2 separate regions of the Homo sapiens genome follow, and region 2 is linked to region 1. Evidence: fine-mapped expression QTL. A gene starts in region 1. The other region holds a variant in brackets. All regions are shown on one strand. Distances are from middle to middle.

Region 1 (15,302 bases):
GAGCTTGACCACAATTGTAAATATTTCTAATATTTAGTGTTTGTGAAGATATGAACAAATAGGCTTTCTTACCCACTAATGGGAGGATTTTTTTCTTTAGGGGGCACTTTGATACTTCCTATTACAATCGTAAATGCGGATGTCATAAGACCTTTCACCCTCTCCTAGAAATCTATCCTACTAAAACAAAAACACACACACACACATATATATATATATGTCTGTATATGTAAAGGAAGAGCATTGCTCATAACAGCAAACTGAGAATATCCTAGATTGTCTAAGTGGTTAAACAAATTTTGGTATATTCACAAAATATAATACCATTAAGGACTGAATTCAGCATATGTACATGTACTGATTTTGTAAACACATAGAAAGTAAGTTGCAGAACACTACATGTAGCAGAAATCCACTTTTGCTGAAAAAAAAAAGTGTGTGTGTGTGTTTAGACACAGGAAATGTCCAAGATATTGACAGTGATTATATTTAGGAATTAAATTAGAGGGAGAACAGGTAGGTTTCACTCTTTATTGTTTTTAAAGGGAAAAAAGGAAGGAAAAGACAGAAAAAGAGAGATGAGATTATGGATTTTTTTTGGTGTTCTGTGTCCAAATTTCCAAGTGAAAGAATGTTTTATTTTTAGTATCAGGAAAAAAATAAAACCAAAATTTCATGAATCACTTCACCTTACCAAACCGTAGAATGTTTAGCAGACCAAGTGATATAATGGAAAGAACCCCAAAATGGAGTCCAAACATCCAAACTGACGTAGAATAATAACATTCGTTTATTTTTTATGTTTTTTTCTTTATTATTAAAGTAATATAATGGAATTACAGAAAATAAGAAAAGAAGGGGAAAATCCCCTACTATTTCATCACTCTCACCCAGGGAGCATCTGGTGATGCCTGGAAACATTTTTGGTTGTCAAAATTGGGCTGGTTGAGGGAGGACTGCTATTGCTATCTAGGGGCAGAGGCCAAGAGTGCTGCCAAACACCCTGCAGTGCACAGGCCAGCCTCCCACAGCAAAGACATACAGCCTAAAACGTCAACAGTGCCAGTGCTGAGAAACCTTGTCACCACTGTGAGCAAAAAACATTTCAGTGTATATCTTTCAATTTTTTTCCCTGTAATCTTTTAAAAAGTAATTTATAACCTTATCATACATTTAATACCCATTTGTTTCATTAAAGCTTATGGCATAAATATTGCCCATCTTACTGCATGGTATTCATAAGCATCTTATTTAACAGTTCCATAATATTTAATCCCTCTATTGTTAGGTATCAGATTGTTGCCAATTTTTTAAAATATCATAAGTATTTGTGTGTTCAGCAAATATTCGTTGAGTGCCTACTGTGTGCCAGGGCCCCAGGCTAGGCCCTGAGGATAGATTTTCCCAAATAGTGTTGCTGATCAAAGAAAAAGAACATTTTTCTGGTTCTCAACACATGTTGATAATTGGTACTGTTACACTGTATTTTCACCCATTGTTTAAAAAATATTATTTTTTTGCTAATTTGAAAGATCTGATCATTTTTTGGTCTGTTTATGTCACTGGTTTCTTATCAACCTGTATGAGTCCTTCATGTTAAAAGATAAAAAGGTTAAGTGAAATAACATGAGTCATCATCCTCTTGCCAGTGTTAGGTACCTATTTTTTTATTTCTTTCCTTTCCGTCTATCCTGTAGATGTGGAATAGCGATGGCATTCAGGCCTGTGAGGTCACATTTGCTAAAATGGGGCTGCAGCATCTATCAGACTATCTTTTCCTTGGGCCAGAGTTAACTGTACAGTTATAAAATATTACTTATAAAATATAAATATTACTTATAAAATATTTTATAACTGTACAGTTATAAAATATTAATGTGATATTTTATGATTATTGTATTATAAACACAAATTCACTTACTAGGCAGAAGAAAACTTAAAATACCCCTAATGCCAAGCAAAGCATTATAACCATATGGGAATAAAACAAAGGGACATTAAATCTAGTCATGGATTACAACTAATTTTGCCAATGTTTATGGCCTACTCTGGTGGAGTTCTTGTCCTTTAATGAATTTGGTTGAAATTTTTAGGAGTAATAAAGGCTTCCTGGAGGGTGATGGATTAGATCCAATATTTACTTAATTTCTTATCAAACCCTCTCTTCCACAGCTCCATTTCCTTGGGGTGCAGCTGTCATTAGTGAGGGACGAAAAGGCAGAATACAAAGATCATGTAAATACACACATGTTCTTTAACCTCTAAACCTCATATCAGGGCAGTTGGTCTAAGAGAAGAAGACTGACATCTTCTTCAGGTAAGAATTATGACCATATGTGAATTCCCATATCCGAATGGAGACATTTAAAGAGCAATGAAATGTAAACTGGGGAAGAAGTGATGGCTCATTCAGGTTGGGGAAGTGGGTTTGTCCCTGGGGGAAGCCCAGTATAACACTATGGAACTAATACTACTTCTCTATCTTCCAAGGGTAGGATGGGTAGGAGGATGAGATAGAGAAAAAGTTAAGCAGCCAGGAGCAGTGGCTCATGCCTGTAATCCCAGCACTTTGGGAGGCCGAGGCAGGCGGATCACCTGAGGTCAGGAGTTCGAGATCAGCCTGGCCAATATGGTGAAACCCCATTTCTACTAAAAATACAAAAATTAGCTGGGCGTGGTGGCAGGTGCCTGTAGTCCCAGCTACTCGGGAGGCTGAGGCAGGAGAATCACTTGAACCCGGGAGGCAGTGAGCTGAGATTGCACCACTGCACTCCAGCATGGGCAACAGAGTGAGACTCTGTCTCAAAAAAAAAAAAAAAAAGACAAAAAAAACCGGTTAAACTTCCTTTCTCAAAAGTAGGAGCAAGAGGCCTGCATGGTGGCTCCCGCCAGTAATCCCAGGACTTCTGGAGCCTGAGGAGGGAGGATCGCCTGAGGCTAGGAGTTCGAGAACAGCCTGGGCAACATAACAAGAGCCCCATCTCTACAAAAACAAAAAAAAAATTCTTAAGTAGGATCAAAGATTAAGACAGTTGATTTATTAAACCTCTACTAAGTGACCAAACTTTATTAAACTCCATGAAACCCCATGCCCAACCTCCTTCTCAGTCACACTGAGACACTCTTGTACATTTTCCACATGGGGTTTCAATTCCCCACAGTATTTCTGTGACTTCCTTGAAGACCACACTCTAACTGCTGTCATGTGGCCTCTGCCTACCTACTTTTACTGAGAAAGGCTAAGTTTTTCTTCAGAGTATCATAGTTCTCCTTAAATACTGTTGACGACTGTCATTGTCAACTGATACATCCTTTCTGGAAAGCATTTTCAGTTTTCTTCAAAAGGCCTTTAAAATATTCAGGCTCTTTGACTAAGTAGTTACACTTCTAAGTTTACTTGAAGGAAACAATCAGCAATATTCCAGAGATATATATGCAATGAGTTCAGTGAATGGCTAAGACAGAACCACTGTAAATAACCTTTATACCCAACAGTGAGGAATTAATTTCATTTAGTTACCCAATCTAATCGAATGCAGCAATGAAAACATTTTTTAGAAGGTTATTTAATTCATAGAAAAGCATCCACAGTAAATTTTTTTCAAGTATTAAAAAAAGAGGTAGAACAATGGTACTTTTACTCCTTGTGTTATAAGACAAACCCAGACTGAACTTTGACATAGGCCAAGGTCAATGTGTCTAAGAAATGTTTTATTATACTATTTTTATTCTTAGGCTCCTCCATTCCTCTTTTAGGACTCCTTTGGGTTCTCAGAATGGACAGAGCAAATAAATTCCGTTCAGGGATCCTGGACCTGCTTAGCGCAGGAAGAGACTTACTTAGATGCTGCAGCTGGGATAACTTACACAAGTCATGTTACTAGCAAGCAGCTGGCGGTGGACTTGGACCCGTGTCCAGACCTCCAGCCTAGCATCAGAGCTATATTCTGAACACACAGTCGCATAAGAATGACTACCTATCCTATACTACCTATCTTATTTATTTTTAGAGGTATAAATTATTTTTAGAGCAAAACTGAATCGCGCCTGGAGGAAGGCCAGATGCATTGCCTGTTCTTATTAACCCCAACAGGTAATTGGCTCTACTGCCCCCTAGACCATCGCGTTCCCTTTCCCTTCTCCTCTCTCCATCCCAAAGAAAGGGTGTAGAGACCCTCCGTCCTAAAGTGCCCAGCGAGCTAGCCAGAGATACTGGGCCGTGGGCACCCGCGGAGGAACAACGCTCCCTACCTGCAGGCGGACAGAAGCGCGGCTGGTGCGGAGCCTCGGGAAGCTGCGCAGAACTGGGGCCGCGCGGGACGCGCCAGCTGCTCAGCGTTGCGCCAGGCCCGGAGGCGGGGTCCCGCCCACCTCTGCCCAAGGCAGCAAATCCAGTTTGCCGGGCGTTGGACTTTCCTGACCTTCGGTGAAATCGGCGGAAGCTTTCAGTTTAGGTATCTAGTGTTGGTGTCCTAGGAATAAAGCTGTGTATAGAAATGAAACAGAAAGTGAAACATGTCAGTCCAGTTTTCTTGTAAATGAGATTTTCACCGGGAAGAGTTTCGAAGATTAAAGCAAATCCACATTTAGTATGTTATTAATAAAAAAAGAAATTTACAACAAGCCAACATCTGAACGCACCTTGATTTTACCTTCAGAGGGGTAAGAGCTTAAGGTTACCCCTTAACCTTTATCAGAAAGGCGTCCCCCTTTCTGATAAAAGCCTCTTCAAGGTGACTGAACATCTTGACATAACTTGATATAACTCTACAACATATAAAAAGTCAGCAGCAGACCCATATGGCTTTGGTTTTTATTCTAGAAAGTAGGTGTGTGTGTGTGTGTATGGGTGTATAATAGGAAATATATTTTTAAATCGTGGATTCTGTGACTTCCTCAAAGTTCCTCGACATAATGAAACTTCATTTGCTTTGTCATTAAAAGAACTTCCCATCCCGAGCTACATCTTTTAAGAATGCTCAGGGTCCCTGATATTCTGCCACCCTAAGGATTAAGGCTGCGGAAGCCTATTCTAGGTGAGGGTTAAGAAAGCCCTTTTGAAAGCTTTGGGTTAGTGAATGGGCCCAAGATGACAGACGATGGTGTCATAATTTACTTAAGTATTATCCCGCGCTGAACTTCTAGGTGCTCTCTTTTCTCGAACTCCTTGACCTCAAGTGATCCGCCAAAGTGCTGATATTACAGGCTTGAGCCACCGTGCCTGTGTGCTCCCTTTTCTTTTTTTTCTCTTTTTCTAAATTGAGAAATTGGACTCTTCGTTGTTTGCCTTTCCTTCTTATTCATTTCAACTGCAGTTCAAAATACTGCATAATGAATGAATATTGAGATAGCCCTTGCATTGGTTATGACATTTGCTTCCAAAATAAGAATTTTCACATTCTGATTGTATCACAGATTTTTATTTTTATCTGGGAAATTATTGAGGCTGACACTGCCTTGATTTGGCAGGAGCATGGAGTTCTCTTTGGCCCCAATAAAATTGCAATAGGGTTTGGGCCCAGCTCAGATGTTCCTTCTTTCAAATCACTTTTGAGGTCACATAGTAGAATAGAGCAATTTTGGTGACTGTAAGTTTGGGTGACTTCCCAAAGTTCCCGAAGTTGGGTGACTTCCCAACTTTGGTGACTGTGACCTCTAGGAAAATATAGACATTATGTGGCAATACAGTTTACAGGTACTGCATATATATAGTCTGTGTATGACACACACATGTACAACAAGTTTCATGAAAAAATACTTAGATCTACTATCTGCAATGCCCTCTGATATTTTCATTTAATGTTTTATTTTTCTAAAAATGGTCAAGACCCAGGGCATAAACTTTATGATCTGCTAGTTCATCATGACTCTTGAGGTCTGCAAAAAACAAAACAAAAAAAAACAACTGGCTTCAGAGCCATCTACCACTAACTAGCTGAGTTAACTTGGGCAAATAATTTACCAAGTAGCCAGGATTAAATCATATCCTCCTAGATGGCCTGGATGATCTATGAATAATTTTTTAAACTGGGGATGGGTATTTTGTTTTTGTTTTATGAAAGCAGTGTTCAGGGTCTACCTAAATGATCAATGAGGCAAACGGAATTTGCCTTTCTCTAAAGTTGCTGATGGGAATTGAGGGTATTTGCTCAGCTTGCTGCTCAGTGATTTGCGTATTAGTAATGTGAGGATTCGTGTTTTTGTTCATCTTTCCCACCTGTTTCTACCCTTCAGCCATTCATTTTCCCATACAATTGATCAACTACCCGGAGATTGAAAAACAGGCTGTGTTTAGAAAAAGAGAAATTTTATTACCTCAGAAAAATATGTAAAGCAAAACAGATGGTTAATGAGTGGGGGGTTAAGTCCTGAAACTCTGTGTGAATTTTTTTATTTGGACGAAATAGATGGAGAAGTGCTGAGATGGGAGAAGAGCAGTGGGGAGCCAGGGCTGAAGAGCTAGATACTATGGTCATCTTGAATACCACCACTTCCTATTCATGTAACATCTACTCTATTCATTTTTAGACATATAAATTCATCATTGCCAATGTGCTGTTTCTCAGAGTGTCTCTGATGGTTACTTGCATTACACTCGACTTGGGGTTAATGTTTAAAATACAGATTCCAGGGTTCTGCCTGGGATCCAAACTTGGGGGCAGGGTCTTGGAGGTCAACATTTTAACATTGTCCTCAGGTGAGTCATGTTCACATTTGAAGTTTTGAAAACTAGTGATTTAATATTTAAGGGAAAAAATGAGCCAAGAGTTCTTTGCAAGTACAGCTGTAATTCGCTTTCTTCCATCTAATTTGGCTGATTTATCAGTACCATCCTTCCTTCTGCCTCTGTCTACCCTGCTTGCCACTTTTGCTTCTAAAGCAGGAGAGATGATCCTCGTTTGTACTGATCTCAGGAGGACTGATTTCAAGATCTTATAAGTGGACCTGAAGAGATGTGAGCAAATTCCTGGTGAAGGAGCAATTTCCAGTAAATGTTCTTGATCTTCAAAAGCAGCATATACTAAAGAGACTCAAAACAAAAGACATGACAAACTGCTTTGTTTGCATCGAATATTTTAAAATGCATTTTATTATGTATAAAGACAATATCAAGATTTGTCTCCAGGTTCTATTTTTGATCATGTAGGGTTTTAAACCACTGCCCTATGCAATGCTCATTTCTCTTCCTCTGTTTCCATCCAACCCCTCACATTTGTTGCCCCTACCCTTGTCATAGACTCACATCCTATATGTGTCTCGTGTCAAACAGACTTCGTGGAAAGAATACTTTGTTCTAGTTACACAAAACAATGGTTTAAATGACAGGGGTAATTAACATGTATGGGTGACCAGAGAGTAGCAGCTGTCCTCATCTGACACTCACAATCAGATGCTTCTCTCGCTCACACTGTGTCTCTCTCCTTCCTGTCCTAAGCTGGGGAAGAGCTGGGCAGGTGAAGAGCTCTTGCCTTCAAAGGGCAGACCCCATGCCACAGGTACTTTAAAACAAAGATGAGACCTCCAACAATTTCCCCCACCCACAATAAGTTCATAAATCCAGACATAAGTAGTTATGGCCTGGATAAATGCTGTGGGAGTTGGGGAACACTCTGTGGTAAATATTTTAAATCTAGGGAATCTCAATAAATCAACAAAATGCCACTAAAGATAAAGTTTACAATTGAGAGATACTCTTTCAGGGGATCCTAGAAAATATTTCTTGATTTAATATCCTAGAACTAATAACATAAGTGAGTGTCACACAAATGAAATAGTCACCTTGTGAATCATTTCCTTTGGTAACCACACTTAAGGTGAACTGGATCAAGAACCCATTTAACCCATTTATTTTTGTAGGCTCATCATAAAAGAATGAGAATTTTTCTTTTCCCCACCATTTCCTTGAAAGGACAGCAAGACCTTTCTGCTCTGAGAGAGATATGTTCCAAACAGAAATTAATAAATAAAAATTTCAGATACCGAAAAGTCCTATACAAGAAAAAAGAAGACAAGTCAGAGCAATATGGTATAGTGCACAGGTGTGAGGTTCCTTTAGTTATGGTGGTCAGGAAATGTGTAAGAGGTGATATCTGAGAAATGAATCATGAAGATAACCATGGAAAGATCTGCCAAAAGAGCATATTTGGCCATGGGAAGAGACAGGTACAAAGACTATACGGGTGGAACAAGCTTGGCAAGTTCCAAGGATGAAAAGAAGAGAATTGTGGGTAGAGAGTGAGGAAGAGGGATGGGAGGGTCAAATCATATCATGAAGAGCCTTGAGGACTAGGGGAGAGGTTGCATTCTACTTGCAATGAAAAGCCACCAGATGGCTTAGAGCAGGGTAGTTGCCTGATGAATGTTCTAAAAATACCACTCTAGCTGTGGTACGAAGAATGGAATATGGAGGGGACTTACATTCATGGAGGCTGGAAAATCTTTAGGAGCTGTTTCTGTAGAGCATGTTCAAAATATAATTTGGAAGTAGAACCAGTAGGACTTATTGAGGGATATTAGTGGTAATGGATAAAAGGAAATCAAGGAAGATACATACTCACACACACATATATTTGTATATATTTATATACATTACATATATATTTGTATTTATATACATTAAATATATATTTGTATGTATTTAATATGCTTTTCCAGAGTAGGATACTATAGCCAGTTTCAATATTATGTGCATTCTCTAAATTAAGGAAGTCTAAAAACAAAACAGAAACTTTCCTGGTAAGTGAACTACTGGAAACCAGTCTAAACCAATCAAGAAAATCATGATTTCTAAAGAAAAAATTACAGTCTTTTCTGGAAATGGAGAAATTGGTGGCAGTATGTTGACAGTATTTCAAAGCCATGCTCCTGAGGCTTGCTATTAACCAGGCTCCAGTTATTTTGGAGAAATTCACAAGAAGGGCTGTGGGTTAAGTTTAGAGCATTTTTTTAAAACAATTCTTATGTTTTTTTTTTATGATTCTAAACATTGGAATATTTGAAACATTTAATGTTTGAACATTATTAAGATACAATATTTAGATATTTGACGTTTTCTACTTCGTGTAAGGGGGTTTGGCATCTTTTAGAAGAGAGACTCGAAGGTAAGTACAAATATTCTGAATAGTGCAGTATATCATTAAACACAATATCAGAATTTCATTATTCAACACTTATTCCATGGATTAGAGAATTCTTTTTTTTTATTATACTTTAAGTTCTAGGGTGCATGTGCACAACGTACAGGTTTGTTACATATGTATACATGTGCCATGTTGGTGTGCTGCACCCATTAACTCGTCATTTACATTAGGTATATCTCCTAATGCTTTCCCTCCCCCCTCCCCCAACCCCACGACAGGTTCCAGTGTGTGATGTTCCCCACCATGTGTCCAAGTGTTCTCATTATTCAATTCCCACCTATGAGTGAGAACACGCGGTGTTTGGTTTTTTGTTTTTGCAATAGTTTGCTGAGAATGATGGTTTCCAGCTTCATCCATGTCCTTACAAAGAACATGAACTCATCCTTTTTTATGGCTGCATAGTATTCCATGGTGTATATGTGCCATATTTCCTTAATCTATCTACTCATCTGACAAAGGGCTAATATCCAGAATCTACAAAGAACTCAAACAAATTTACAAGAGAAAAACAATCCCATCACAAAGTGGGCGAAGGATATGAACAGACATTTCTCAAAAGAGGACATTTATGTAGCCAACAGACACATGAAAAAATGCTCATCATCACTGGCCATCAGACAAATGCAAATCAAAACCACAATGAGATACCATCTCACACCAGTTAGAATGGCGATCATTAAAAAGTCAGGAAACAACAGGTGCTGGAGAGGATGTGGAGAAATAGGAACACTTTTACACTGTTGGTGGGACTGTAAACTAGTTCAAGCATTGTGGAAGACAGTGTGGTAATTCCTCAAGGATCTAGAACTAGAAATACCATTTGACCCAGCGATCTCATTACTGGGTATATACCCAAAGGATTATAAATCATGCTACTATAAAGACACATGCACACGTATGTTTGTTGCGGCACTATTCACAATAGCAAAGACTTGGAACCAACCCAAATGCCCATCAATGATAGACTGGATTAGAGCATTCTTTTGACTAAGTACAAAGAAGGAAAGCCTCGGAGGCTGAGAAATGCCATCAGGTGGGCATCAGCACTTAGGTGAGTGTGTGAACTCTGGAGATGAACTGGATAGGCCACCCTCCAAGCACCTCCACGTTCAGCACCTCCAGAACCTCTCCAAATCCCCTCATTTAGGGATTTTTATGGGGACTTCATCATGTACACATCAGCAATTGTTACCTCAATCTTCAGCCCCTCTCCCCTTTTCACAGGATGAGGTAGGAGGTGAAAGTTCCAAGCTTCTAATCATGGCTTGGTCATTCTTGTGACCAGCTCCCATCCAGAAGCCCACCAAGTTACTTCAGGAGAATGAAAGATGCTCCTATCACTATGGAAATTCCAAGGGATCAGGAGCTCTGTGTCAAGAACTGGAGTCGAAGGTCACATAGAACAAAAAATTTACCTAGCATACCTATCACTCAGGAAGTTACAAGTCTTTTAGGAGCTGTGTGCTGGAAAATGGGGAAAGAAATTAATGTATATTTATTTATTATAATACCACATGTAATAAGGTAGATCATTTTACTCATCAGAGTTCAGGAACTGTTCTCTGTTATTTTTATACACATTCAGAGTAGGAGACCAAGTTGAATTTCACAGGATTGCAGGAGGCTGAGATTCACAGGCTGAGAATAGGATCATGTGAGTTGCATGGGTTTCAAGAGAAGGAAGTTAACAGGGGCTTAGTATAGTGCTGTAGTGACCTCGCAGTTGAGGAGGATAGATATAAGGTGCTACTGTCAGTGGGAAAAAATAGGAAAGAGAGAAATATCTAGAGAAGATTTTAGGAGTTTCTTGTTCAATATGCTGTGTGAAGCATTTGCGGGGACTCCTTCAGAAAGCATAAGGTGAAGACCCTCATTATTCTTCATGCTTCACAGTTTACGTTTTCATTCAGTTTATGTTTTCTTAGAATGCTATTACATGCATGGACTGAGCCATGTGAAGCCTCAGTTTTATTCAGGTTACACTCTGAAATATAATCATTTTCAGCTCAAAAAACCTTCCTTGACTTTATTACCCCTTACATTTTTATCTTCTCCAATTACTCCTTTTCATAACAAACATCAATAAACTGTATCATTACCTTTTAAAGCTATCAAATTAACAAAACAAAACACAATAATTATAATAAAGATTAAAATAGCAGCAATGGTAAAACATATACCATTTAAAAAATGTCAGACCCTATTTTTGTGATTTACACATATTAGCTCATTTAAATCTTACAACAATCCTGTAAGGAAGGTACTATTATTGCCTCTATTTTAGAGATGTGGACACTGAGGCACAGAGCTTTAGTAACTTGTCTAAACGACACAGCTAGGAGATAGCACAGCTGGGATTCGAACCCAGACATCTGGTTCCAGTGTTTATGCTCTTAACTATTGTGCAAAGGTATAGTGAAATCAGCATCCTTATTCACTGCTGGCATGGTGTATTTGTTCAACTCCAAAAAGTTAAATGCAGAGTTACCATATGACCCAGCAATTCTGCTTTTACATATATACCCAAGAGAATTGAAAACATACGTTCATACAAAAACTTAGCAGCATTATTTATGACAGCAAAAAAAATGGGAACAATCCAAATGCCCCACAATTTTGAATGGATAAACAAAATGTGGTATATCCATACATTGGAACATTAATCAGACATAAAAAGAAATGAAGTACTGGTACATGCTACAACTTGGATGAACCTTGATCATACTAAGTAAAAGGAGCCAGACACAAAAGGCCATAGATTGTAGGCTTCCATTTATATAAAATGTCCAGAATAGGCAAATCTATAAAAACAAAAAGTAGGTTAGGGGTCCCCAGAAACTGGGGGAATGGGGAGAATGGGGAGTTTGGGGAGTGGCTGCTAATAGGTATGAGGTTTCTTTCTAGGGTGAAGAAAATGTTATGGAATTAGATAATGGTGGTGGTTGTACAACTTTTTGAATGTATGAAAAACCAATAAATTGTACAATTTAAGGTGGTACATTTTATGGTTGTGAATTACATATCTTAATCTTAAAAATCTCTAGGTAGGGAGAGAACAGGATCTGAGTCCACTGATGCCATTATATTACACTGCCACATGGTGTCACCGTTGAGGAATGGATGAAGTCCAAAGAAGGCTTACACAAAGCTTGTGTCCAGGTCATGCCCAAGCTACAGAGGTGCCCCAGGATTGGAGTGAAGGTTAAAATCCAGAATTTGGGGAGCACCATCCCAGAATGGTTTAATATTAAGGAGGTTCTAGCCTCAGCCCCACACTGTGCAACTATTTGCAGTCCTTCACAGACCGAAGTTCTTGGCTAAACCTGGTTCCCAGCTCAATGGGGAAATTCAAATCCTTGTGAAAGCATCTCTGTTAAAAGGAGACACTGCTAGGCACATCTTAAACTTCCAAACACTTTATTTTTTGAAAAACTGCTTCTTTATGGAGGTCCAAGGAAATATTGGGCAATTTTTACTGTCCTGGGATAGGGAGCATCAAATGAGTTGAGGATTTTACATCAATTTTCTCTAAAATATTTATACTACTTAACTCAGTGTATACATATGCATGTGCATATATATATGTGTTTATATATATACACACGTATATATACACACATGTATATACGTGTGTATATACACACATGTATATACGTGTGTATATACACACGTATATACGTGTGTATATACACACATGTATATACACACATGTATATACGTGTGTATATACACACGTATATACGTGTATATATACACACATGTATATACGTGTATATATACACATATGTATATATGCGTATACACACATGTATGTATATATACACATACATACGTACATATACATATACATACATATGTATATATACACATATGTATATATATATGTATACACACATATGTATATATACATATATATACTGAGAAATATCCAGCAATGGAAGTTGTTACATACACACTTATTGAAAATCCTTTAGCTGTTAAAAATGGTAAATATAAATGCAATGTAGCAACATAAAAATCCTTATGTTATAATGCAAGATGATATAAAACACATATTTATATATATGCATAAAAATGTACACATATATATTCACAAATTCATACAACTGAAAATAATTCACATACCAGTTAAAGTTATATGCCATTTGATTCTGAAATAAATTTCCTTTAACCCTCTTACTCCACATTTTATAAAATGTGTCCAATATCTATACCAAGACTTTTTTTTTCAATTTCCTGGGCATATTTTTCTATGGTCACTTTTTTCACTTATGTTTTAAAATTATGAAAAACATCATACATACAAGAAAATTTATAATGTGTGTTTTCGGTTTAACATGTATCCATCAGGAATCAGAATTTTACTCAGTTGGTTTGATTAAAGAGATATTAGTGAAGACACTACTTAAAGGAGTATGACTAAGAGAACCATCCAGTTGAGTCATCCAGAGTCTAGCAACAGCAGGAAGACTGCGCTCTCTCTAGGCTACATAGCAAAGGAGAAAAGTGTTTCCAGAGCCCATGGAGCTGGAGCCATGGAGAAGGGACTGCTTGCCAAGAGCTGCAATTGTGGAGAAACACAACCACCACCAGATACTCAGCCCCAAACAGAGAAAGAACAGAGAAAATATACCCTGATGTCTTTTTCCTCCTGCCTCCCATCTCCCTGAATGCCTCCCGCTGTCCAAACTCAAATGGAAACCAGCTGAGGAGAGCCCAGGTGGTGCCGTCCAAAGAGGTCAGCTTTGGGGTATAGAACAGGGCAGGGAAGTGAGGAGAATGAATATGATGGAAGGCAAACAGAAAACCTAGACAGTCTAATTGTTTTGTCACCCAGAATTTATTCTTTTCCTTTGCTCAGATGAAGAGCAGCTCATCCCTTACATATGAGAATGACAGAGTCTGACAAGATTTCTCCTCGACCAAACTTTAGTCAGGCTCCTCTAAGCCATCTCCTTGATTAGATATTGACCTTGGGCTGCAGTGTTCATCCTTGCAGAATCAGTGTTGGCAAGAATCCTGCTAAGTCAGTTTAGAGAGGATCTTCCCACCCTGAATGTTTGACCACTCTCAATATCTGATCAAATTCCTTACCCCCACCAGCCCCCAGGTGATGTCTGCTTACCCTGGCCTACCTTTAGCAAGAATCCTGTTAGGTCAGTTTAGCAAGGATTTCCCCTACCCTTGCTGTCTCTTCTTAGTAATTTTCCATCCACGGACCCCACCCCCATCCACACAACCTGCTCCTCGGCTATAAATCCCCACTTATCCTTACTGTATTCAGAATTGAGCCCAGTTCTTTACCAAGGTCTCTTTCCCCCTATTTCAAAAGTTGCTGAATAAAAATCTATTTTTACTGCTACAGCTATTGTCCAGCTTTGATTTTCCTTAACAAGCCTCATCAGCTGCCATATTGCCTTGAGGGGATGTCAGTTCAGGCACATTCTCACCCAGAAACTAAATTGTAATATTTATCTCCACCACTACTCTTTATGCAGGGTAATAGGAAAAGAGAGTCAGGGAAGAAGTAATTAACATTTTAAATGGAGAGCTACTATAATTCCTGCCTCTAGAGCTTGTTGCAAGGCTAAAATTAATAATCATAGCTTCCTACTCATTTACTTATGTATGTTTCCCCTGCCCTATGCCAACACCTAGGTAGATCAGGATTTTTTTATCTGGTATGCTTCAACACTTTAATTTCTTCATGATCTGAAATTTCTGCATTACTTCAGTTATCTGATAATCATTATTATGGCACACGGCAGTATTAAGAAGTGCCCAGTGAATCTCCAGGTGTCATGCATAGTTCTTCTTGCCCTCAATATATAGATGTAACCCAATTTCCTTTTGGTATTTGGGATGAATCATACCATTCTGTCACTGTGAGGAATCAAAGTGACCAGAGGGCAGTTTCAGCTTTCGAATCAATGAATTGAAATTCAATTCAATTCAGTGACGGGGTCTTCTAGTGGCAGCATTCCTTCCTTTGGATCTAGGCTTCCAAACACAATAAACCCAAGGTTGTAGAAATGGTGTGCTGGAATACTATGCAGCCATAAAAAATGATGAGTTCATGTCCTTTGTAGGGACGTGGATGAAGCTGGAAACCATCATTCTCAGCAAACTATCGCAAGGACAAAAAACCAAACACCGCATGTT
Region 2 (15,919 bases), 50 kb before region 1:
TCAGCTCTTCTTTGTACATCTGGTAGAATTTGACTGTGAATCCATCAGGTCCTGGGCATTTTTTTGGGGGTGGGGGTTGGTAGGCTATTTATTACTGATTCAGTAATGGAGCTCATTATTCATCTGTGCAGGGATTCAGTTTCTTCCTGGTTTAGTCTTGGGGGTGTATGTGTCCAAGCATTTATAAATTTCTTCTAGATTTTCTAGTTTGTGTGCATAGAGGTGTTCATAGTAGTCTCCGATGGTTATTTGTATTTCTACGGGGTGAGTGGTAATATTCCCTTTGTTGTTTCTGATTGTGTTTATTTGGATTTTCTCTCTTTTCTTCTTTATTAGTCTAGCTAGCAGTCTATCTATCTTATTTATTTTTTCAGAAAACCAGCTCCTGGATTCATTGATCTTGTGAATGGTTTTTCATGTCTCATTCTCCTGCATTTCAGCTCTGATTTTGGTTATTTCTCGTCTTCTGCTAGCTTTGGGGTTGGTTTGCTCTTACTTCTCTAGTTCTTTTTGTTGTGGTGTTAGGTTGTTAATTTGAGACCTTTCTAACTTTTTGATGTGGGCACCTAGTGCTATAAATTTCCCTTGTAACGCTGCCTTAGCTGTGTCCTGGAGATTCTGGTATGTTGTGTCTTTGTTTTCATTGGTTTAAAAAAACTTAATGATTTCTGCCTTTATTTCATTATTTACCCAAATGTCATGCAGGAGCAGATTGTTTAATTTCCATGTAATTGAATGGTTCTGAGCAATTTTTTTTTTAGTCTTGATTTCTATTTTTATTTCACTGTGGTTCTACAGAGTGGTTGGTATGATTTTGGTCTTTTGCATTTGCTGATGATTGTTTTATGTCTGATGGTGTCGTTGATTTGGGAGTATGTGCCATGTGGCAGGCAGTGAGAAGAATGTATATTCTGTTGTTTTTGGGTGGAGAGTTCTGTAGACGTCTATGAGGTCCATTTGGTCCAGTGTTAAGTTCAGGTCCTGAATATCTTTTTTAATTTTCTGACTTGATGATCTGTCTAATATTGTCAGTGGGGTGTTGAAGTCTCCCCCTATTGTTGTATGGGAGTCTGAGTCTCTTTGAAGGTCTCTAAGAACTTGCTTTATGAATCTGAGTGCTCCTGTGTTGGGTGCATATATATTTAGGATAGTTATATCTTCTTGTTGAACTCTTTATCATTATGTAATGCCCTTCTTCTTCTTTTTTGGTCTTTGTTGGTTTAAAGTCTGTTTTGTCTGAAATTAGGATTGCAACCCCTGCTTTTTTCTGTTTTCTATTTTCTTGGTAAATTTTTTCCCATCCCTTTATTTTGAGCCTATGTGTGTTACTGCATGTGATATGAGTCCCTTGAAGACAGTATGCCATTGGGTCTTGCTTCTTTATCCAGCTTGCCATTCTGTGCATTGTTTGTGTGGTTTCTTTATACTGTCACTGGTCTATATACTTAACTGCATTTTTGTAGAGGCTGGTAACTGTCTTTCCTTATTATATTTAGTGCTTCTTTCAGGAACTCTTGTTAGGCAGGCCTGGTGGTAATGTATTACCTCAGCGTTGAGTTGTCTGAAAAATATCTTATTTCTTCACTTATGAATCTTAGTTTGGCTGGATATGAAATTCTTGGTTGGAATTTCTTTTCTTTAATAATGTTGAATATAGGCCTCCAATCTCTTCTGGCTCGTAGGATTTCTGCTGAGAGGTCTACTATTAGTCTGATGGGCTTCCCTTTGTAGATGGCCTTTCCTTTCTATGTAGCTGCCTTTAGCATTTTTTTCTTTCATTTCCATCTTGGAGAATCTGATAATTATGTGTCTTGGGGACAGTCTTGTGAAGTATCTTGTGGGGGTTCTCTGCATTTCCTGAATTTGAATGTTGGCCTCTCTAGCTAGGTTGGGAAGTTCTCATGAATGATATGCTGGAATATGTTTTCCAGGTTGCTCCCATTCTCCCCATCTCTTTCAAGGACACCAATAAGTCATAGATTTGGTCTGTTTACATAATCTCATTTTTCTTAAAGGTTTTGTTTGTTCCTTTTTATTCTTTTTTCTCTGTTCTTGTCTGACTGTCTCCTTGTCTGTCTTAATTCAGAAAGTCAGTCTTCAAGCTCTGAGATTCTTTCCTCAGCTTGTTCTATTCTGCTATTAATACTTGCAATTGCATTATGAAATTCTTGTAGTATATTTTTCAGCTCTATCAGTTTAGTTACATTCTTTTCTATACTGGCTATTTTGTCTGTCACCTCCTGTATTGTTTTATTGTGATTCTTAGCTTCCTTAAATTGGGTTTCAGTGTTCTCCTGAATTGCGATGATCTTTGTTCTTATCAATATTCTGAATTCTACTTCTGTCATTTCAGCTATCTCAGCCTGGTTAAGAACCATTATTGGAGAACTAGTGTGATTGTTTGGAGGAAAGAAGACCATCTGGCTTTTTAGTTGTTAGAGTTCTTATCTTGGTTCTTTCTCATCTTTGTAGAATGATGTTCCTTCAATCTTTGATGTTGCTGTTTTTGTTTTTTTTTCCCCCTTTTTATATCATATTTAATGACCTTCGGGGTTTGATTGTGGTATAAGGTGGGTTCAGTAGACTGGCTTCATTTCTGGAAGATTTTAGGGGCCCAAGTCTCAGCTCAGGACTCCCAAACTGTGTGTTATAACTCTGGGGCACTGGTATCAGGCCCCGGTCTTGTTCTCTGGCTCCTTAAGGTTAGGAACCTGCTATGTTGGAGGGGCCTGAGGTGCTCCTGGACCTCTGATCACAACTCTCTGAGGCATGGTGCCAGCCAAAGTGCTTTGTAGGGCTGTGGAAACATGATCCATCCTCAGTCGCATGTGCCAGTCGCAGTGGCAGCAGCGGTGCAGTGGGGTGCACACTTGTTGGCTGCAGCAAGGTGCTAGTGGATGCCGGAGTGCCAGCCTTCGTGCAGGTGTTCATAGAAGCAGCAGTGGCAGCATGGCTCAGGCAGGTTGGGGGGCCCTCACCAGCAACTGTACACATGTTTGTGCCAGTGTTGGGATTAGCATGGGAGCAGGATGCTGCTAGATGCAGGGCTGTGTGTGCCCCCTGTGCACATTCACATGGGAGGCATTGGCCGCTCAGGGCAGGGGTGGGCCTGCTGGTTTTTGTGCCTAGTTTTGTGCCATAGGCAGTGTTCGCATAGGGGCAGGGCTGGGGACTGGCTGGGGCGGAGCTGGCAGCTCCATGCCCAACAACACTCTGATGACAATGCCATTGCCATCACAGTGGACAGTGCTGCAGGGAAAGGAGGGGCAGGATATACTCACACCAGCAGCAGTGGCATGGCAGGGCACACGCTCACACGTATGCTGGTGGGGAAGGGAAGGTGAGGTCTGCCTGTACACGCAGGTACTGGCAAAGTGATATGAAGGGTGGCTGTGGGCAAGTGTGTGCAAGCAAAGCAACAAGGGGGAGGCTGTAGTTAGGGGATGAGCTGGGTGGGCTGGTGTGTGTCCATGGGGGCTACTCTGCTGCAGCACTCTGACAGTCTGGCATGGTCTGCCAGCACAGGTGCTATGATGTGGGCTCCCAGGAGGTACCTGGTGGCTGCACTGCAAGCAGGCATGGACAGGCTGGGGCCCTGGGAAAGGCTAGCAGACCAAAGGGTGCTGAAGTCAGACTGGCCCTATCTCATGGGCAACACCGCCCTGCAGAATTTAGGACCGACAGCTCCCCTGGTGCTAAAGTCTCCTATGGAAGCAAGTTGAGCCTAGGGAGATGGACATCGCTGGCTGTACTCCACCACAAACACTCCCGCACGAAACCTACTGGGCTCCACATCACCTGGAGCTCTGCCCCTACCACTTCTCTAAGCAGCTCTCCTTGCCAACTCAAGTGTCCACAGTGGTTGAGGGGTCTCTTCCTGTCGTGATTCCAGAGACCCATTGCAAGAGCATGTTTCTCCTTGCCTGTTCAACTCATCCCTTCTGCAGGAGTTGTTGGGGGCCAGGAACAAGTCCCAGTGTGTGGTAGCCTCATGCAGGGTTTTCAGCTTCCTCCTGCTTCAGCCCAGCCTCTGTGTCTTCCCTCTGTCCACTCTTGATGCCTTCCCTCTGAAAATCTGGGAAGATCTCTGTGAGAGGTGTTTCTCCTGGCTGCATCTAGTTAGCTCTCTTGCCTCCTTCTCCTGCAGTTAATTTTTATTTTCTTTCTTTGGCTTCATTTTGTTTTTTAAATAGTCTGCCATGAGCACAAATTACTTTTGTAAAGACAGAAATAATTTTTTAAAAGCAATAATGGAGAGTATAGTTAGATTACTGAAAAATAACAAGAAGAAAACATTTAAAGAAATCAACAAAGGGCTGTATGTGTTTCTAATTTATTTTTATTTATTTATTTATTTGAGACAGGGTCTGACTCTGTCACTCAGGCTGGAGTGCAGTGGCATAATCAGGGCTGCCTGCAACTTCAACCTGCGGGGCTCAAGCGATCCTACCACTTCAGCCTCTCAAGTAGCTGGAACCACAGCCATGCGCCACCACACCCAGCTAATTTTCGTATTTTTTTGCAGAGATGGCATTTTGCCATATTGCCCAGGCTGATCCCTGTTAGGTTTTGAAGGGAAGGCGAGGGTTAAAGAAATATGCACACTGTAGAAGTCGGGGACCAGCCTAACGCCAGTGCCTACCGCTGCTTACAGGCTGGGGTAATTTATAGGTATGGGCGGGAGGGGTCTGGGCAGTATGGCTTGCTGCCCGGTAGGATATTGATAAGATGTTCCCGTCATGAGGCAGTTCTGGTCCTTGTTCAGGCGGGATGTCATCGTGGTGTTCCTTGGACCTTTGCCCAGAAGGATATGATAGAGATATTTCTTTAGTTGGGCCTTTGTGGGCCTTGTGGTCAAGTGGTTAGGCAGGGTGTTTCTCATGGCCCAAAAACCCATGAAATGTGTCACTTTTACCAAGGTCTGCAAAATAGCAGGGCGCTTACAAAATGGTGCAGTTTGGATTAACATTCTTGTCTTGGGGCACATGTGTATATGTCCAAGAAGAATGCTGTTTTTATGTTAATGAAGCCGGCATTGTTCGCAACGCAGCCCACAGGCTCCATTACACGGCTGCAGAAATCCAACATCAAGTCATTCACTGTTGGCAGGGGTCATCCTTCCTAAAGTGGATACCTTGGGTAACCCCTGTCTTAGGGTCCCTAATTTTCTCCCTCATAATACTGACAATTGGCCCATGTGTGCGCACCTTCATATCCCGCTTTATCTCCCAAAGGCCGAACTCCCTTGTCCAGGCAGCTATATAGAAACACGATACCATTCTTCTCTGCCAAGTTTGGTATCAGCACTTCCAGGAAAACAACTCTAAAGTCGGACACCCACTGCTGAAAACCCAAAGCCTGAGTGCAGTGCTCCTATTTAGCAGGAAACAGCCAGATAATTAACAATGCCCCTCTTCCTTTTTATGCTAAACTAGAAGGCAAAGACCTTCTGGGCAAAGGTCCAAGGAACACCATGATGACATCCTGCCTGAACAAGGACCAGAACTGCCTCATCATGGGACCATCTTATCAATTTCCTGCCAGGCAGCAAGCCATACTGCCCAGACCCCTCCTGCCCATACCTATAAATTGCCCCAGCCTATAAGCAGCAGCAGGTACTGGCATTAGACTGGTCTCTGACTTCTGTAGGTTTTATGCTGGATATAAAGTCTGCATTTGTTGTTGAACTTCCCTCTTATGTGTGTGTGTCTTTCTTTAAGTCTCGCCTTCCCTTCAAAACCTAACAGTCTTGTACTCCTGAGCTCAAGTGATCCATCCACCTCAGCCTCCCAAATTGTTGGGATTACGGGTGTCAGCCACCATGCCTGGCTGGCAATTTATTTAATTTAGCTTTGTTCTCTTTTTAATAGAAGATTCCTGAGAGGCATAGCTAAATTGTGTGTGTGTGTCTGTGTGTAGAATTAGGCACCCCCTTCAACATTGCATTGTCACTTGGAAATAGAAAATTAGAATTTTGGTCATAAACTATTAGACTATAATAAGAATATAATGAGTTTAATAATTATGTCACCAGCCAATCTATGAGGCCCCTCCTATCTTATAGAAGGGAAAGTTAATACAAAGAGAGATTACAGAGCTTAACCAAGATCACCCTGTGAATGTAGGGCAGAGTAGGTAAGAAATGCTACAACCATTTCTGTCCTTTCCTCCCAAGATATTTTCCTCCAAATGCAGTGTAATGCAAATGTAGTTCAATGTAATATAATATGATGCAATACAATGTATGTGATGTGATGCGATGTAATGTAATATATTGTAATATGACATGATGTAAATATTCATGTAAATCACCTAGAACAGTGCTTGTCATACAGCAGGTGCTAAATCAATGTTAATGCTTTCAGGTCCAAAAAAATAAGTCCAGTATTTCCCACTCTGCTTGGTTTTATAAGGGAAAAAAATACAGCTTGAGGATGAGAAAGAAATGCACTTGAATTTTGGGAAAACAGGCAAAGAGCAAGAGCTAAGGAAGGTGTGAGAAATGAGGAGGCAGCAGTTTATCTAGAACCTGCTTTAGCAACGTTTCCAAAGTCAGGAAGCAGGGATCTGCTGTGAGTTTATCTGGAATGTGAAGGAAGCAGGTGAAGACCAGCTTAATCTCTTGAAAATGGGGAGAGGGGGCCGGGCACGGTGGCTCACGCCTGAAATCCCAGCAATTTGGGAGGCCGAGGCAGGCAGATCACCTGAGGTCAGGAGTTCGAGATCAGCCTGGCCAACATGATGAAACCCCATCCCTACTAAAAAATACAAAACTTAGCCAGGCATGGTGGCAGGTACCTGTAATCCCAGCTACTTGGGAGGCTGAGGCAGGAGAATTGCTTGAACCCAGGAGGCGGAGGTTGCAGTGAGCTGAGATCGTGCCACTGCACTCCAGCCTGGGCAACAGAGCAAGACTCTGTCTCAAATGAAAAAGAAAATGGGGACAAGGAATTTCTGGGGTGGGGCAGGCAGGTCATGAGCAGCTGGGGGAAGAGAGGAGGAGGAGGGAGACCACATGGGGGCCAGCCCGAAAATTGGCCTCCCTTGTGTCATGGTCAGCCAGGGGCTGGAGGTGAGTCACTGGTCATCATCCTCAAAGTCCACACTTGGCTTGCAGTCCCACCTGGTCTCTATGTGCTAAGAAAGGCCTGGTCTCAAAGTAAGAGAAGGAAAGGTGTGAATTGAAGTTCTGGCCGGAGCAACTGAAATACTTGTTTGTTCTTAGAAGGAGAGAGGTCTAGGTTTGGCTCATTCACAGAAAAGAACTTTTCAAAATAAAAAGAGATTTATTATAAGTGTAACAGATTGATGTGGGGCACTGATTAAGTATTTTTTTCTGCCCCATGTTACTGAATAGTGAAGAAATAACTGGGTAGATGGCTTCTTGTTGAGGAAAAGTTACTGAACTCACAAAGGTCAAATTTAAGTAAGGCCTCTATAGCACTGTAGGGTGACTACAGTTAACAACAATGTATTCTATATTTTCAAATAGCTAGAAGAGAGGATTTTGAGTGTTTCCAACACAAAGAAATAAAAGTTTCAGATGATGGATATGCTAATTACTATGATTTAATTATAATACATCTTAGACATGTGTCGAAATAGCACACTCTACTCCATAAATCTATATAATTATTTATGTGTCAATTAAAAAAATAATTAAAAAGCCAGGAGTGGTGGCACACACCTATAGTCCCAGCTACTTGAAAGGCTGAGGAGGGAGGATCATTTTAGTCCAGGAGTTTGAGGTTGCAGTGAACTATGATTCCACCACTGCACTCCAGCCAGGGTGACAGAGCAAGACTCTGTCTTTAAAAATAATAAAAATAAATTTTTCAAAAAGAAATATCGTTTTGTTAATATGGTAAAAAAAATAAAGTCAGGCCTAATTCCTTCAATGAGTCTTTCAAGTGCAGGGTTGGGGGCAGGAAATGAGAGGAGAGAAGAGAGGAGGAGGAGAGAAATTAAACTGGCCCACTGGCCTTGAACAAAGACAAGTAAGAAGGAGACTAAGAGACAGGGAGAAGGTTCCGAGAGCCTAGAGTGGATGTATATTATCTGAGTCTCCTCTCATTCTTGGGGAGAGAAAAGGGGTGCTAAACGCATATCTCCAAAGTTTGAGAGTGCCTTGTATAGAGATTAATACCTGCTTCTTGCCTGAAGTTTCTGAAAATGGGAGGTTCACTGGGTGTCCCACACCCGGGGAGTGAAAAGGGCTGTAGACTTATTTTCAGGAATGAAGAAAATGGGGATATCATTCACATCCCAGGCTCCTGAGTCCTCAAGGATGACCAAAAACCCCAACAGTTACTATGGCTTCGTGTGATGCAGAAGAGAAGGAAGCCAAAGGCATGGGAGGCCCCAGCCATTATCACAGGCCACTACCCTTAGACTGCAACCGCCTGAGACCTGAGCCATTTCTCTGCCCAACTTGAAGATTGCAGGGTCATAAGTTTCACCTATTCTGGGAGGAGAGATATTTGTAAAATATCTCATATTTGTAAAATATGGGATTGGAATTTTAAATGAGATGAACTCTGTCACTTCCTCAAAATGTTAAACATAGCGACCCAGTGTTCTACTCCTAGGTATATTTCAAAAGAAATGAAATGTACACACAAAAATGTCTGCATGAATGTTCATAGAAGCATTATTCTTAGTATCAAAAAATTGGAAACAAACCAGATGTCCAGAGACTGATGAATGAGACAATAAAAAACAGTATGTCCATACAATGGAATATATCTCAGCTTTAGAAATGAATGCAGTCCTGATACGTGATACAGTGTGTGTGAACCTTGAAAACATTATGCTATGTGAAAGAAGCCTGTCACAAAAGATTGTATATATTGTATGATTCCATTTAGACGAAATGTCCAGAATAGGCAAATCCATAGAGACAGGAAATAATTACTTAAGACTGGGAGGAATGAGGGGAACTAGGGGGTGACTGCTAGAGGGATGGGATTTCATTTTGGGATGATGAAAATATTTCAAAATTAATTATATTGTTGGTTGCAGAACTCTGTGCATATACTAAAAACCACTGAAAGGTATGCTCTAAATCAGCAATCCCCAACCTTTTTGGCACCAGGGACCAGTTTCGTCGTAGACAATTTTTCCGTGCATTGTGGGAAGGGTGGTGGAAATGGTTTTGGGATGAAACTGTTCCACCTCACATCATCAGGCATTAGTTAGATTCTCATAAGAAAAGCAACGTAGATCCATTGCATGCTCAGTTTACAACAGGATTTGCACTGCTATGAGAATCTAATGCTGCCACTGATCTGACAGGAGGTAGAGCTCAGGTGGTAATGCTCATTTGCTGGGTGCTCACCTCCTGCTGTGCAGCCCAGTTCCTAACAGGCCATGGATGGGTACTGGTTCACAGTCCAGGGTTTGGGAACCCCTGCTCTAAATGAGTGAATTGCATGGTATATGAATTAGATCTCAAAAGCTATTAGAAAACATGGGACTAGACTGAGTCATAATAAGTGATCTACAAATCATGAAATTGCACTGATATATGATGAGGGTCACTCACTGCCCAACAGGCTAGAAGGATTTCCCAGAATACTACTGGCAACAGTTATTAGAAAAATAAAACATTTGGTCGAGTCTCCTCAATTGAATTGGTGATATAAGGATGGGCAGCCCTCAGAAATAATGCAGCCTATCTACAACTATCTGATCTTTGACAAACCTGACAAGAACAAGAAATGGGGAAAGGATTCCCTATTTAATAAATGGTGCTGGGAAAACTGGCTAGCCATATGTAGAAGGCTGAAACTGGATCCCTTCCTTACACCTTTTACAAAAATTAATTCAAGATGGATGAAAGACTTAAATGTTAGACCTAAAACCATAAAAACCCTAGAAGAAAACCTAGGCAATACCATTCAGGACATAGGCATGGGCAAGGACTTCATGTCTAAAACACCAAACGCAATGGCAACAGAAGCCAAAATTGACAAATGGGATCTAATAAAACTAAAGAGCTTCTGCACAGCAAAAGAAACTACCATCAGAGTGAACAGGCAAGCTACAGAATGGGAGAACATTTTTGCAATCTACCCATCTGACAAATG[G/A]CTAATATCCAGAATCTACAATGAACTCAAACAAATTTACAAGAAAAAAACAACCCCATCAAAAAGTGGGTGAAGGATATGAACAGACACTTCTTAAAAGAAGACATTTATGCAGCCAAAAGACACATGAAAAAATGCTCATCATCACTGGCCATCAGAGAAATTCAAATCAAAACCATAATGAGATATCATCTCACACCAGTTAGAATGGCGATCATTAAAAAGTCAGGAAACAACAGGTGCTGGAGAGGATGTGGAGAAATAGGAACACTTTTACACTTTTGTTGGGACTGTAAACTAGTTCAAGCATTGTGGAAGGCAGTGTGGTTATTCCTTAAGGATCTAGAACTAGAAATACCATTTGACCCAGCCATCCCATTACTGGGTATATACCCAAAGGATTATAAATCTTGCTACTATAAAGACACATGCACACGTACGTTTATCATGGCACTATTTACAATAGCAAAGACTTGGAACCAACCCAAATGTCCAACAATGATAGACTAGATTAAGAAAATGTGGCACATATACACCATGGACTACTATGCAGCCATAAAAAAGGATGAGTGCATGTCCTTTGTAGGGACATGGATGAAGCTGGAAACCATAATTCTCAGCAAACTATTGCAAGGACAAAAAACCAAACACTGCATGTTCTCGCTCATAGGTGGGAACTGAACAATGAGAACACATGGACACATGAAGGGGAACATCACACACTGGGGCCTGTTGTGGGGTGGGGACAGGGGGGAGGGATAGCATGAGGAGATATACCTAATGTTTAATGATGAGTTAATGGGTGCAGCACACCAATATGGCACATGTATACATATGTAACAAACCTGCACGTTGTGCACATGTACCCTAGAGCTTAAAGTATAATAATAATAAAAAAAAACAACCAACAATCAATCACTTAAAAAAAAAAAAAAAAAAGAAAGGATGGGCAGGACCCAAACTGTCAGAAACAAGGTAACCTCAGGACTGGCTGCTTTCTTTGCCCACCTCTCGTGGTTCATTGAGTCTCTCTCCCTCAGCTCATATCTGCTTCTCTCTGCACATCTCATCTGTTCGACTCACCCTGCTTATTTCCTCAGTCTTTCCCTCTACTTTGAACTTCTTTTCTCTTTCTGGTGACTTCTGCTTTCTCAGTTTCTGCTGCCTCAGCGCTGTTCCTGCCCTGTCATAGATTCTAGCAGCCTCCTGACCCTTCTGTGTCAGGCCTACCCACCTCGGTCTTGAGAATATGAGTTGCTGATTCAGTCTCTGGAAGCCAGCCATATCCCAAAGCCTTCTCGTCTTCCTAGTTCTGGCTCTGGGAAGCCAGAGGAGACAAGACTATTGGACCCCAGCACCTAGGCATGGTGTAAGATGAACCCGGTGTGGTTCCCAGCAACTCTGGCCTGAAGGATCTCCAGAGCCAGCCAGTTTCCCAGGGTCCCCCTAGCCAGGGCTGATCAGGGTTACAGCATGTTCCCAGGACTAAACTGAGGACAGGTCTTAAGTCTGTTTGCCTTAAGACCTTGGGAATCTCCGTAAAAATGCTTGGACCAAGTATAGAAGACTTCTAAACTCAAACTCAAGTAAAGGAAACCTGAATTCAAACTCAGGTAAAGGAAATGAAAGGTTCTCACAATGACTTTGGTTTCAGCTCATATTTTTTTCTTTTTAAAGTGAAATGATGATTCATCACTTTCAATACAGTTGAGACAGCTGACTCATGTTTTCGTGTTAGGTCAGTGGTTCCCCAATATGGCTGCAGGTTAGAATCCCCTGGGGAACCTGAAACATAGAGGTGCCTGGGCACTACCTAAGACCTCCTGATTCAAAATCTCCAAGGGTGGGGTCCAGAAGTCTGCATTTTTTGAAACTCATCAGTGGTTCTGTAGTAACCAGCCGTGCTCTAATTGGTGGATTAGCATTAGGGAATCCCTGGGTTTGATGACACTGATGGCAGCAATCCTTGAAGGGAAGTAAGCAAGAGGGAGAAAAGGAAGCTGAGAACCCAAAGACAAACTTCAGCTACTTCAAGATGTGGACACCTGTCTATGTTTCTTAGATTTTCTTTCACTAAGAAGAGCTGATACCATGATTCTCAATCTACCAAGGGGGAGGAGAAATGGAAGCATGCAGAAGTAAGTTGATCTCACCTAAGGCAACAGAATTAAGGCAGGTCTCTGCTTAGAAAGACCACCTTGAGGGATAATTCTGCTCACTTGTTGTTCTCCTCACTGGACAGGAGACCCTGGAAGCAGAGACAATATCTGGTGCACCTCTGCATTCCCACTACCTGAAACATAAAGTTGCTCAATAAATAAACATCCTCTGTTGAATGAATAACTGCAAAGGCAGGTCCACTTTTAGAAACCATTGTGACTGGCTGGAGGGGTGGAGCTATGTGGAAAGTAGAAAAAGCAGTTGACACCAAGGGCAGAGAAGCTGGATTTGGTTCTACTCCTTACTAGCTCTGTGATTTGACCACTCTCTGCCTTGGTGATAAAATGTCTGAACAGAGTTTTGTAAATTACATTTTATAATTTACATAGAAAGCCTAGAATTTGGCTGGGTGTGGTGGCTCACACCTGTAATCCCAGCACTTTGGATGGCCAAGGTGGGTAGATCATTTGAGCTCAGGAATTCAAGACCAGCCTGGGCAGCATGGTGAAACCCTATCTCTACAAAAAATACAAAAATTAGCTGGGTGCAGTGGCATGTGCCTGTAGCCCCAGCTACTCGGCAGGCTGAGGCAGGAGAATTTCTTGAGCCTGGTAGGCTGCAGTGAGCCAAGATCGCACCATTGCACTCCAGCCTGGGCAACAGGAGTGAAACCCTGTCTCAAAAAAAAAAAAAAAAAAAAAGAAAAAGAAAAAGAAAAAAGAAAAGAAAAAACAAAAGCCCAGAATTTCTTGAATTAGTTGATCAACATAAATAGGGCCTTCTTGCTCCTTTTGCTTAAGTGGCATGTTAAAAATCAGTGACTTCTTTAATGACTGTACCTACTCTGAACTCTGTGCCAGATAAGGTAGAAAACAGAAACAAAAAATAAAGAAATTAATATGCAAGTGTTGCTTTTCCTACTTGTTACTCTGGAATCATAAGGCCACATGGCTGTACTTTCCAGTTATTCATTCAACAGAGGATGTTTATTTATTGAACGACTTTATGTTCCAGGTAGTGGGAATGCAGAGGTGCATCAGATATTGTCTCTGCTTCCAGGGTCTCCTGTCCAGTGAGGAGAATAACAAGTGAGCAGAATTATCCTTCAGGGTGGTCATTCTACAGCAGAGACAGAGAATGCCCAATTCTCTTCCAGCCTGCTCTGACAACTTGCACACTGGGAGACACCGGGGCCTGCGTCTCTCAGCCGGAAGTGGGATGCTGGTGATGATGGTGGTGGCTGCATATGTGCCACAGCAGAACTGGCTTCTAGGACTTTATATGGCATAGAGAGGAACTAATTAAGGTGAATGGCCTGAGAAGGCTCCCTCACTTTACAAAAGAGGAAACTGAGGCTTTAGAGGGGTTAGGTAAACAGGTGGCCAGTGGGAGAATGAAGATCCTTCAGGAACTGCAGGGGGAAGAGGACAGTGTCTTGTTCCCCATCGTCAGCAGCCACCTCTGCCCTCTCCACTCCCTCCATCATTCCTCTCTCCTCCTCTGACCTCAGCACCTTCCCTCCTCCCCTGCAGGAAAGCCAGCCCTATGCAGGGGAGCACAGGGGTCACGCTCAGAGATTTTGGAAGCAGACCTCTGTCTAAATCTCTGTTTCACCTCCTGCCAGCCGTAAGACTTCAAACAAACGGCTTCCTCTCTTGGTGCCTGTTTCATTTCATTATCTGTAAAATGGGCACCATAAAAGACTTGCTTTGTGGAGTTGTGCAAATGAAATGAGTTGATACACGGAAAGTGCTTAGAACAGGGCCTGCTGGCATGTAATAAGTGCTTAATAAATGTTAATTATCTTATCCTTGTGCCATTACCTGCTTGGTGTGGCCAACCCATGATCTTATTCCCAAAACATTACTAACTTAGTTCATTTTCCCCTCAAACTTATATTTTAAAAAGTTTAGTTTTTTTCAGATAGCACATTGTATCATTGCTAAGTGTTTTCTAAATACCAAAAAAAAGTAAAAAATAACAGTAAATATTACCCAAATACTCAACCACAGAGATAATTGCTGTCAGTATTTTTGTGAACATAATTTTCTGTAGATCCCTGGACACATTCTGATATAATGGTACTTATTAAAATTGCATATCAATGCAATTTTAATAGGTACCATTCATATGAATGCAATTTAATTAATTAATTAATTATTATTATTATACTTTAAGTTCCAGGGTGCATGTGCACAACGTGCAGGTTTGTTACGTATGTATACATGTGCCATGTAGGTGTGCTGCACCCATTAACTCGTCATTTACATTAGGTATATCTCCTAATGCTACCCCTCCCCCCTCCCCCCACCCCACGACAGGCCCCAGTGTGTGATGTCCCCCTTCCTGTGTCCAAGTGTTCTCATTGATGAATGCAATTTTTTTTTTTTTTTTTGAGACGGAGTCTCGCTCTGTCGCCCAGGCTGGAGAATGCAATTTTAATAAGTACCATTATATCAGAATGTAATTCCGTGAACTGTTTTATCACTTTTCAAGGGTATCATGGGCATTTTTCCATGTTGGTAATTACAGACCCCATGATTATTTATAAAGACTGATAAATATTTTATTGTATGGGTATGCCATAGTTTGTTTAAGCCATCCCCTAGTGATGGCAATTTAGGTTGCTTCTAATTTGTAAGTGTTGATATTACAAAACCATGGGCACCATGAATGACCCTTCACAATCAGCTCTATGCCCTTGTCTGATTATTTCCTTGGGGTAACTTGCTGTAACTGGATCCAAGTGCATATACCTGAAGACGCACATCCCAGTAAGGTAACTCATGTTGTGGGAAAACAGATTGGCCAGTTAGCTGGTTTGGCAGAATCTACATGGATATGGCTTTATGGCTTTTGCAACAATTTGGGACCTAGCTATGGCAGGGCAACTAGGCCTATGGACAGTTGTGGGAGGGCAAATATTTGGAGGCTATCCCTACCCACAGGTTTCACACAACATTTTTCAGACCTGAGTGGGGACTCCGGGAGAATTTACTGACCTCTTCATTGGTTCGTCAGTGCCCTACATTTTCTCTGAATTCTTGGCTTTTCCAGGAAGTCAGGTTAGGGAAGTTCGATCAGCTGAAAAATGTCACATAATTTTGAGGAACCTTCTGCGGGTATAATGTCCAAGGGTATTTTGCTCTACACAGGCCTGGGGCAGATTTTTTCAGGCCCCAAACTTTCCTTATTGCCTGGCAGTGATCCTGAGAAAATGAAGCTGGGATGTGGGGCAACAAACAAGAGTGGTAACCACAACCCACCAGCTTCTGCTGCTAGAGAGTGGTAAAAGATGAATAGAGGCTGGGAAGGAAATGGCCACACGAGGGGCTGCATCATGGCTTGGCCAGCTCTGGTTGGCTCCTCTCACAGGTAGAGAAAGGGGAGGAAATGCCTGGACCTTCAACCTAAAATAGAGGTCAGCTGGTCTACACATTTCCCTCCAGCTTTCCTTCCTGGCCACCTTAGATGCAGTTTCAGAGTTGAATATTGTATTACACAGGCTTCGGATGGGTGAGCAGTGACCAGGAAGGGTCAACAGAATGTGCAGTTTGCCGCAACATTTAGTCATTCCTAACTGAAACGCAGTAATACAGGTTACTATTCACAGAGGTCTAAATATTGCCAGGGCAGATCCAAGTACTTTATGTGTATGAACCCATTTAACT

The links. PIP is the estimated chance that this variant, and not a neighbour inherited with it, causes the effect.
Region 2: its variant is fine-mapped to the expression of CD274 in tibial nerve (GTEx, PIP 0.96).

Annotation. Positions count from the first base shown.
Region 1 is chr9:5,439,546-5,454,847 of GRCh38, reverse strand. It overlaps CD274 (CD274 molecule), which reads right to left and starts at 4,306. Exons shown (of 7, transcript NM_014143.4): 1 at 4,252-4,306. RefSeq lists enhancers at 4,030-4,189, 4,480-4,529.
Region 2 is chr9:5,489,689-5,505,607 of GRCh38, reverse strand. The region is part of intron 2 of INCR1 (interferon stimulated noncoding RNA 1); the gene reads left to right. Among named protein-coding and RNA genes, the nearest start is that of PDCD1LG2, 13 kb to the left of the region's middle. RefSeq lists enhancers at 3,220-3,721, 11,508-11,567, 11,598-11,847, 12,058-12,147 and a silencer at 6,205-6,499. The variant G/A (reference allele first, on the strand shown) is at 10,089.